Regions from separate parts of the Homo sapiens genome. Here region 1 is linked to region 2. Evidence: fine-mapped expression QTL. Tissue or cell type: whole blood. Region 2 holds a variant in brackets; the other region holds the start of a gene. All regions are shown on one strand. Distances are from middle to middle.

What was found. PIP is the estimated chance that this variant, and not a neighbour inherited with it, causes the effect.
Region 1: it holds the start of SLC35E1, and the variant in region 2 is fine-mapped to the expression of SLC35E1 in whole blood (TOPMed, PIP above 0.99).

The regions. Positions count from the first base shown.
Region 1 is chr19:16,570,223-16,575,560 of GRCh38, reverse strand. It overlaps SLC35E1 (solute carrier family 35 member E1), which reads left to right and starts at 3,146. Exons shown (of 6, transcript NM_024881.5): 1 at 3,146-3,617; 2 at 3,979-4,049. The coding sequence starts at 3,197. MED26 (mediator complex subunit 26) reads left to right here. Exons shown (of 3, transcript NM_004831.5): 3 at 1-642. LOC105372295 (a long non-coding RNA gene) reads right to left here and starts at 3,011. Exons shown (of 3, transcript XR_936360.3): 1 at 2,753-3,011. RefSeq lists enhancers at 2,840-2,929, 2,237-3,111 and silencers at 3,030-3,249, 3,380-3,489, 3,650-3,779.
Region 2 is chr19:16,547,957-16,553,294 of GRCh38, reverse strand. SLC35E1 (solute carrier family 35 member E1) reads left to right here. Exons shown (of 6, transcript NM_024881.5): 6 at 1-3,458. Among named protein-coding and RNA genes, the nearest start is that of CHERP, 8.2 kb to the right of the region's middle. RefSeq lists an enhancer at 5,158-5,257. The variant CG/G (reference allele first, on the strand shown) is at 2,553.

The DNA of each region.
Region 1 (5,338 bases), 22 kb before region 2:
GACAGTGGGCCATGCCACTGCCTCTGTTTGCTCCCTACCCAGCCACTGTCAGGCCAGTGTTGTCTGTCATGTGCCAGAAGCTTCTCAGCTGTGGTGAGCCACTGGCATTGGGCAGGCGGGCCAGCTGGCCAGCCAGTGTGACCCACACTCCATGGGCAGCCACCTGTTTATATCTGGTTTCAGTTATAACCCAGTTTTTAAAGAAATGCTGCAAAAATTTAAGTTTTCTCATGTTTATTTTAAACAATTCCTCTTCCATCAGACCACCAGACAAAAAAACCTTTCCTTTCTTCCTCCCTTTTCTTTTTTCCCTTCCTGTACACATCTAGAAAACTTCACCTTTCTAGAGTCCCCCCAAAACAACACAAAAGTTATTGTGGGTGCTACTGGTTTTATGCTGTACTGTGGGGCGAGGGGGAAGACCTGTCTGTACGCTGGAAACACTCATAACCATTCCTTTAGATTCGTTTGCCTTATGGTTATTTGTCATAAACGCGATTTGCAAAAACAAGGAGCCTTAGTGAATGTACAGTACCTAGACTTCTGTGTTCTCAGGACGCAGAAGGGAGCAACTTTGCTATTTGGTCCAGTAAGTGGACACCTTGTGATATAAATGTGGAAATAAAAAAAAAAAAAAAACCATTTGCACAAACCAGTCTGAGAATCTTTTCTCATTTGGACCTTCACAACCAAATCAGCCCTTTCCTGGATTGTGGATTATTAGCCAGGAACACCCAGACCCCAACAGCTGCAATGCAGGGAGACAGGGCAGGGCACAGCCTTGCAGTCCACCTGTTAGCCTGCTGCTGCATTTGGGAGGACCTCCACATTTTATTCATTCAGGGCCACATTAAGGAATGTTTTCTTGTCTCACCCAGACTTTACCTGGCCTAGAGAGCAGCCCTCTGTAGGAGGCTCCCATAGCACAGGTCTCAGTGACTACCCCCACCTCAACAAAATACCTAGTTCTTACAAGGTATGGCCCAGAGGCTCAGAGCTGTGTGTGTGTGTCTGAAAGGCCACCCCATGGCCCTGGCCCCCAGCTGCCTTATTAGCTGGTTGGTGCTGACTCCAAAAAAATTTTTCTCCCTTGACTATAAAGTGCTCATCTTTTAGTTCCCCCTCGTCCCTGAAACTGTAGGCTAAGACTTTGGTTTTCCAGTTTTTCACTTTGGAATAGGTCATCTTACCCATATCTGCTTAATTTCACAAATGAAGAAACAGCTACACCTTAAGACATGCAGTCTCACAGGGCAAACCAAAGGTTCCTTCCAGCCTGTAAGACTACAGTCAGTCCAGAGCCAGTTTGAGAGCTAGCAGGGATTCCTGGCAAAAGCTTGGTGCAGAACACACTCCCCTCCCCAACAAAAGGCCATGGGCAAAGTGGCTTTGAAGGCAGGATGAGGTTGAACCCAGGCCTACCACCCACCAGCTGTGTGGCTCTGAGCTCATCTCTTCACTCCTGTGCACATGTCCCCATTTGGGGGGTGAGAATACCCCAGAGTTGTGAGAACTAAAACACAAAGCATGTCAGTGTGTCAGTGGAAGTATCTGACACTCAGCTGTGCTGTAGGGTGCCTATAGTTATACTTTCCTAATTTCACTGTGCCTATGTTTAACAGCTCTGCTGAGACATGGTGTCCCAAGGATGTGACTTTACTCTGATCCACAGAGGGTACAGCTGGAGGATATTAGGGTGCAGAGCTTGGCCTCCTATCAGCATCTCTAGAGTTTTGGGATAGGTTGCAGCTCCCCACTACCCCTGCCTGCAGGGACTACCATGCCTGTGTCCATGTATCCAGAAGGGCCTAGGGCCTTTGAGAATGCAAGGATAAGCTAAGATACCTTCCAACATTTGGGGAGCCAAGTTGGGTTGCTGCTTTCTACTTTTCTTTGAGACTGGGTCTCGCTCTGTCACCCAGGCTGCAGTGCAGTGGCGCCATCATAGCTCACTGGAACCTTGACCTGGGCTCAAGCCGATCCACCCACCTCAGTCTCCCTAGTAGTGGGTACCACAGGCGTGCGCCACCACGCCTGGCTAATTTTTGTATTTTTTGCAAAGATGAGGTTCTGCCATGTTATCGATGCCACGATCTCCAACTCCTGAGCTCAAGCAATCCGCCCACCTTGGCCTCCCAAAGTGCTGGGATTCCAAGCTTGACTCACTGCACCCAGCCGGTTGCTGCTTCTAATTTGACAAGTAAAAACACTGTAACGGAATTTTAACACCCTTTCCCCGAAAAAGTTGGAGGCACACGATGTGGAGAACAAATTATAGCCCTTGAATTAGTATAAGATCATCTTACTGAAAACCTCGTCCTGTTTTCCTCCACTGGGGCCTCCTGGGGCTGGTCCATCCCGGCTGGTCCTTGGACATCAGCCGTCAGGGCCCGGCACCTCCCCCTTCTGCAGAGCCTTGGAGACAGGTGTCCAAGGACGCTACCATGACCACGGTCCCCAGTGTGGCCAGGAAGCCTAAGACAAGTCGCTTCCCCATTCTGGACTTCGGTCTGTGAAATGCGGACAGTGATACCTACCGCACCGCGTTCCTAGGATTCAGTGGGATGATACCAGGGCCACGCCCGAGAACTGCGCACGTCGCGGTGGTTTCCAGAACATGATTCCAGGGATCGGGTGCTCCGGGATAGTCCCACTGCCAGAGTTTGGCCACGAGCGTGCGCCCCCAGTTTGCAGAGCGAGTTTAGCCCAAGAGCTTTTCACAAATGGTTTCTTTCCCTAAAAGGCCTTTTACCTTTGGTGTCAGCCGCCGCCAGCCATCAGGAATCAGGAATCTAGTTAGCGGTTGCCCTTGTATCCCTGGTCGAGGCCCTGATGTTTGGCCCACGCACAGACGCCGACGCTGCGAAGCCCTCCGCGCTTCTGTTCGCCCGTCCCGTTCGAGCTCCGGCTCCCGGTCACTGGGACCGCCCACGTCTCAGGTGGCACAGCTTGGACGCAGGTCTGTGTCCCCTTCTTCCGCTTCCGGCCTCGGCTCCGCCGGAAGCGCATCTACAGTGGACTGGGCCTGCACTCGAGACGTGGTGGCTGGCGCGTCGGCCGGCGCGGAGGGATGACGCGAGGAGGCAGCGACCAATGGGAAACGGCGTAGACCGGGGCGCCTGCCCCCCCGCCCAGCCCCGCCCCCGCCCGGCGTCGGGCCGTCGGACGGGCTGGAAGGGGCGGCCGCTCGGGCAGGATGGCGGCGGCCGCGGTGGGCGCGGGCCACGGCGCGGGGGGCCCGGGCGCAGCGAGCAGCAGTGGTGGGGCGCGCGAGGGCGCGCGGGTGGCGGCGCTGTGCCTGCTGTGGTACGCGCTGAGCGCGGGCGGCAACGTGGTCAACAAGGTGATCCTGAGCGCCTTCCCGTTCCCGGTGACCGTGTCGCTGTGCCACATCCTGGCTCTGTGCGCTGGGCTCCCGCCGCTGCTGCGCGCCTGGCGCGTGCCCCCCGCGCCGCCCGTCTCGGGCCCCGGACCCAGTCCGCATCCGTCGTCCGGCCCGCTGCTGCCGCCGCGCTTCTACCCGCGCTACGTGCTACCGCTCGCCTTCGGCAAGTACTTCGCGTCCGTGTCAGCGCACGTCAGCATCTGGAAGGTGCCCGTGTCCTATGCACACACCGGTAGGTTCCGCGCCCGGCCTCGGGGGCGGCGGCCGGGCCCGCCGCTTCGGGTTTGGGCGCATGGATAGGAGTGCGCCGCCCGGGGCGCGTCCCGCCGGACTGAGAAGTCAGCAGAGGGGCTGCCAAGGGTTTGGTAGGGGAGGGACACGCACGGGGTTCTCAGGGAGAAGAGGAGCTGAGAAGAGAGCTGAGAGGTAAGCAGGACAGACCACAACAGCCGTGGCAGGAGGAAGCCCTACCGAAAGAGAAGGGGCGAAGAGGTGTGAGGGGCTGCCAGGCCCTCCCATCCCGCCGTGGAGGTGGAACAGGTTGGGCCCTGAAATTCAGGCAGCCCCCTGAGTGCCCATCCCTCTCTTTGCAGTCAAGGCCACCATGCCCATCTGGGTGGTCCTCCTGTCCCGGATCATTATGAAGGAGAAGCAGAGCACCAAGGTAACCCCGGGCAGGGACTCTGGGCAGATGGGAGCTCCAGGGGGTTCCTCCCTGTTGCCAACTGGTGACGTGGTCAGGATCCTGGTCTGCAGGCTGCCTGGCTTCCCGTCAAATAGGGAAGTCAGTGTAGAGGTCTCCAGTGGCCTTTTACTACTCAAGTTCTAGAATCACCCTGTGAGCAGTGGTGTGTGGAGTATGTGTCCCTCTGTGATCTCTGCTGTGTGGTCTTAGGAACACTGTTGTCCCTTTCAGATCCAATTTTCCTCCCCGTTTTGATTCCCTACCTGGGTTTGCTGGTAGGTGATGGGTTGGTCACATCTTGGCCATACACCCCATGTGTGGCCTTTCCAGTGGGACTAGGGATGGATGGATCAGAACGCTGTCGGTTAGGTGTTCACTTTTTTTTTTTTTTTTTTGAGACGGAGTTTTACTCTTGCCCAGCCTGAAGTCCAGTGACACAATCTCAGCTCACTGCAACCTCCGCCTCCCAGGTTCAAGCAGTTCTCCTGCCTCAGCCTCTCAAGTAGTTGGGACTACAGACGTGCACTACCACACCTGGCTAATTTTTTTGTATTTTTAATAGAGACAGGGTTTCACCATGTTGCCAGGCTGGTCTCAAACTCCTGACCTCAAGTGATCCGTCCGCCTCAGCCTCCCAAAGTGCTGGTATTACAGGCGTCAGCCACTGCACTTGGCTAGGTTTTCACTTCTTGACAAGAGATTTCTGTCAGGGGACCTCTGGGATCAGAAGCCAGACGCGATCCAAGGAGTTCGATCTTGGCAAAATCCAGCAAAGTCTTAGAAATTAAAACAGCCAGAAGTTGTGATGGTCTGGGAACGGAAGCGAAAGTGGCACACAGGACTCAGGGCTGCATAAGGAGGATGCTTTGGGCACAGTCCAAATTCTGTTCAAGATGCCAAGCCAGGGTATTTCCTGGCTTGGGGCAAGAATAGCCATGGCTTTAGCCGGAGACAGCTTTATCCCGTATTCTTAAGTGGAAGTTGGGCGCTTGTTGTCTCAGCCGGAATCCATTTCATGCTGATGCTGGACACCGTGCCTCTTTTCCAAGTGGTTGGTTTCTGGCATGTTGTATTTTATGTAACTCAGAGAGGTAGTGCCCTGGATCGGCTTATAGAAATTGGGCCACCTATGGCTGATTTTTTTTTATTCCTGCCTGTCTTTGTCTCAGCAAGACCTGTGTGTGCTCTGTAGCCCTGCTCCCCCAGGGTGATGTCAGGCTGTGACTTGGCTCCTGAGAAGTCAGAGTTGTCCCTGAGGTGTGTAGCTG
Region 2 (5,338 bases):
GGGGTCACTGTGGCTGTAGACCATGAACTGGCAGTGGGGGTGTCCAGGGCGGTGCTTGAGAACGTCAGACTGGCTAGTTTAATTCCCTGGCGCAGATACGCATAGGACCAACAGGGTCACCAAGCAGACAGGGAGCCCGCGAGAATCATTCAAAACATCCCCAGCCACAGAGATGGATCCAGTTTCCTGGTCATCCCCTTAGCAGTTCACAAGTTCCTGGCAAATGTTCCAAAGCAAAAAGCGATTGCAATTAGCATCCAGTTCCTGCAGCCTGGTGCTCTGCCCTGCACGTCAGGGTTGGCATCCACCCAGATCCAGATGGAAGGGAAACTTCTCTCTTCTCCTTTGCCTCCTCTTCCCTCACCAGAGCAGGGCGCTTCTCTTGGGGTGGTGAGAAGGATCTTCGAGAAATCGTGTTCAGTATTTCAAGCTCTATTTCTGTGGCACATGTCTTTTGAGAGGCATCTTCACCTCTTCTGTGATGACTTGGTATGTTGTTTGGTAGAGAGATCTTGATTTTCGGAGGATCTTGCATTTTTCTAGGGAATATTTTGTAGTTGTGTGTGTGTGTTTTTGCCTTGGTCCCCATTATGGGATGCATTAGGACTGGCCTATGCATCGAAAATCTTTTTGTTTGTAAACGTTTAAAAACAAAGTTCCCCGGCCAGGCACAGTGGCTCACACCTGTAATCCCAGCACTTTGGGAGGCCAAGATGGGCGGATCACGAGGTCAGGAGTTCGAGACCAGCCTGGCCAACATAGTGAAACCCCATCTCTACTAAAAATACAGAAATTAGCCGGGCATGGTGTCGCGTGCCTGTAGTCCCAGCTCCTCAGGCTGCTGAGGCAGGCGAATTGCTTGAACCTGGGAGGCAGAAGTTGTGGTGAGCCGAGATTGTGCACTCCAGCCTGGGTAACAGAGCGAGACTCCATCTCAAAAAAAAAAACAAAACAAAACCAAGTTCCCACTGGTGATGCCTGTCTGACACGTTTTGGTATTTAGTAGGAAATGAAGTGTTTCGAAGCTTCGAGAGAAGCTTCAAAATTGTCACAATTGCTGAAAACAGAATGAATCGTGAACATTATCTCAATATTTTGTATAATAGACAAGACCACAGTGTTTTGGTTCCCTGACCTGTTTTTGTGTTTATGTTAGGATCTGAATCATGTTCTGGGTAAGGGGACGAGGAGCGAACACTGCACTAAGATTTGGTTTGCCAAATCAGATTCTTTGGTCAAGAGTCAGTTTGGGGCCAGGCGTGGTGGCTCATGCCTGTAATCTCAGCACTTTGGGAGGCTGAGGTGGGTGGATCACTGGAGTTTGAGACCACCCTGGCCAACATGGTGAAACCCCATCTCTACTAAAACAAAAATTAGCCAGGCATGGTGGCACCTGCCTGTAATCCCAGCTACTTGGGAGGCTGAGGCAGGAGAATCACTTGAGCCCAGGAGGTGGAGGTTTCAGCGAGCTGAGATCACACCACTGCACTCCAGCCTTGGTGACAGAGTGAGACTCTGTCTCAAAAAAAAAAAAAAAAAAAAGGAATCAGTTTGGGTCTTGGCAGAAATCAACATAAGGAATATGACAAGACCCCAGTAGGTAACCCTGAGTGCTCAGGTCCGAGCTGTGGTCTCTTTTACGGCTTCATGAAAGGACCGTGCCCTCACGGAGGGGACCACGGCTTGGCTTGTGGGGTCTTAGGTGATGGCTGCCTTCTTTCTTCATCACCACACCCAGCTTCTTGCTGGCACTTAGGGGAAGAGAGCAGCAAATGAGAGATTTACCTTTTATCTCCCAGCGAGCGAGATGTTTCCCTGTTCAGAGAGGAAGTAACATCACTTATGCTTGACTGGTGTTTCTTTTGTTGTTGTTTGTTTTTCTTTCAATTGGAATTCTGTATTTAAGATGTTATGTCAGCTGACACATGGGACACTCCTGAAGAGGTGACTGGCCCCCCACCCTGTTTGGCGGTGAGTTTCCGCACCACCGGCCTCAGAAGTGTCCCTCTTGCTTCGTCTCTTGTTCGCTTGCTTTGTAAATACTTTGGTCCCAAGCTGAGACAATTGCTGTGTAAAACGTGAAGAGTCAATCCCAAAGGGTGTTATTTGTCAGAAGAACTTGCCGTGTGCCTTCACCGAAGGCAGTCAAGTCTGCAGTTGGATTTTTCTCACTGGTGAATGACAAGAAACAGGGATAATTTTGCACTGCGGAGATATTACGGGAGTTGTCTATATGATTATATATAGTACCTGATTCTTTGAACATATTATTGAACTCCAAAATGAATTCGACCTCCATTCAGGCTTCCTGAAATCTCTGAAGTTGCTGAAATTTGTATATTATTTTCCTTTTCCAATGCAAGATCTGCTGGTGACGGGAAATGACTGTCTGGTTTTATTATGGTTTATAAATTAATAAATGGGCTATTTAATTCTGTATATAAATTTACAGCAAGTACGTACACTGGAATGAATGAGGCAATCACGTTACACCAAATCAGCAGATCAAAAGACAAACACATATTTCTGAGACTTGAAGGTCCACATCCCCC[CG/G]CCCCCTGCCAAGATGGAGTCTTGCTTTGTTGCTCAGGCTGGAGTGCAGTGGCGCAGTCTCAGCTCACTACAACCTCCATCCCCCGGGTTCAGGTGATTCTCGTGCCTCAGCCTCCCGAGTAGCTGGGATTACAGGCATGCACCACCACGGCTGGCTAATTTTTTGTGTTTTTAGTAGAGACAGGGTTTCACCATGTTGGCCAGGCTGGTCTCGAACTCCTGGCCTCAAATGATCCGCCCACCTTGGCCTCCCAAAGTGCTAGGATGACAGGCATGAGCCACCGTGCCCAGCCTGATTGACAATGGCCTCTTGAAGGCTGGGTTTTCCCAGCCGGACAGTGCCCGCCCCACATGCTCCACTCCCACGCTTTCATCTGCAGGCCTGCCTTCCTCTCAGCCACCTCACTGCTGAGCTCTGTGGTAGAGAATTTCCTTTACCCATCAGGGTATGGTCTGGCTGGTAATACTGACTCCAACCCAGCTCCTTCATTTTATAGAAGGAGGCATTTCTGAATCATGTTTGTTCACCATGGCGAGACTCACTGCAGAATTTTTAACCACCTTATTTTAAGTCATTCATTCTAGGAACAGTCAAGCCCCTACCACAAAGGGGCCAGATCCGTTCAAGTGAGGAAGCACTTGCAGTTTCTGAATTTTGCTGTATATTTGTCCTATGTCACCCAACAGGCCCTTTGCTATAGCTGGGACATTACCAGACCCCAATACCTTAGGGTCTCACAGCCTGAAGGACACAGAGCATTGAATTATTAAAAGACCTGAAAATATTATAATGTTTTTCAATTGTCACCTGTTTTCAAGACTTAAATGCTATAGACTTTTCTGCAGGAATGACGTGTATATTCCTCACTGGCATTTACCAAAAATAAATGATGGTTTCCAGGGAATCAAAATTGGTCCCGATTTGTCAGCGAGGGTCTCTTTTTGAGTGGCCCTGTCTTCAGTGTGCCCAGCAACAAAATGTGGAAGGAGGAGAAAGAGCAAGCCAACTTGGCTGTCACGTCTGGATTTACTGCAACCTTTGTTTTTTCTTCTGAGCCAAAAATAAGGACGTGCAATTTGTGAATTGATTAGATGATACAATGAAAATAGGATCACAGCTAAATTAATGACGTGACTTTATTGAACGGAATAACATGGGAAGTCCAGGAACATTGTGGCAGCTGTGCTTATGAAACTTTTTTTTTTTTTTTTGGTATGTTTCATGTTTTTTGAGACAGGATCTCATTCTGTCGCCCAGGCTGGAGTACAGTGGCGCAATCCCGGCTCTCAGCAGCCACAACCTCCCAGACTCAAGGGATCCTTCCGCCTCAGCCTCCCAAGTAGCTGGGATACAGGCATGTGCCACCAAACCTGGCTAATTTTTGTATTTTTTGTAAAGATGGAGTTTCACCTTGTTGCCCAGGCTAGTCTCAAACTCTGGGGCTCAAGCTATCTGGCCTGTTATGTTTTTGGTTTAAGAGACAGGGTCTCACCTTATTACCCAAGCTGGACTGCGGTGGCACGACCACAGCTTCCTGCAGCACCAAACCCTACATTCCAGTCCCCTGCCTCAGCCTCCCAAGTAGCTGGTCCAGGTGTACACTACCACACCCAGCTAATTTTTAAAATATTTTTAGAGATGGGGCTCTGTGTTACCCAGGCTGGTCCGGAACTCCTGGGCTCAAGTGATCCACCTGCCTTGGCTCCCATAGTGTTGGGATTACAGGTGTGAGCCACCGTGCCCAGCCTGAAGCCATTTTTGAGTATTGACAGCCAAGACTGTGTACCTGCTACATGCCCAGCTCAGTGGTGAGCTTTTCACACACGATACCTTTGTGAGTTTTATTAGCCTTGTTTTTCAGGTGAAAATGAGGCCCAACGGGGTCAAGTCACTCATCTGGGATTACATAACTGCTTAAATCTGGCTCCAGAACCCATTTTTCCCCATTACTTAAGCCATCCCCAGCAAAGGATTTCTTTCAGACAGAAAGGGTTTGAGTTTCTGCTGAAACTGTTGCCCATGTCCTTTTCATTCATAATCTTTTTGTTTAGTGATTTACTAAGCACTGGCTGTGTCAAGCAGCAGGAAACAGATATGTAAGCCTCCTACCTTCAAAGCACTCAGCCTAAATGACAGGTATGTAACTAAGTAGCACATGGGAGCTACTTAGAAATGCTAAGACCCGGGGGATGGGGGACTAGGGGGAGGTGGCAGGGCTTACGCCTGTAATCCTAATATTTTGGGAAGCCAAGGTGGGCAGATCACCTGAGGTCAGGAGTGCAAAACCAGCCTGGCCAACATAGTGAAAGCCCATCTCGACTAAAAATACAAAAAACTAGCCAGGCGTGGTGGCACGCTCCTGTAATCCCAGCTACTTGGGAGGCTGAGGCAGGAGAATCGCTTGAACGTGGGAGGCAGAGGTTGCAGTGAGCCGAGATCGCACTGCTACACTCCAGCCTGGGTGACAGAGCGAGACCCTGTCTTCAATAAAACCCCACAAAACTTTAGTTACCATCTGACCCTGACCACAATGAGACCATTCCGATTAAGGGGTCCAGACTCAAGAAATCACAACTAGCAGACATATGGGCCACAGAACCCCCTCAGTGCACCTGGCCCTCCATGTTGCTGCTTAGGTGAGTCCCTTCACAAGGCTCATCTCACTCGAGGTGTCCACTTTACTTGCTGGAGAGTATCTGCAGCAGCCAGTCTACCAGCTCTTTCTACTGCTTTCTTCTGACCAGTAGATTCTGATTTGACCCTTTGAAATGAGCTTGGTAGAGG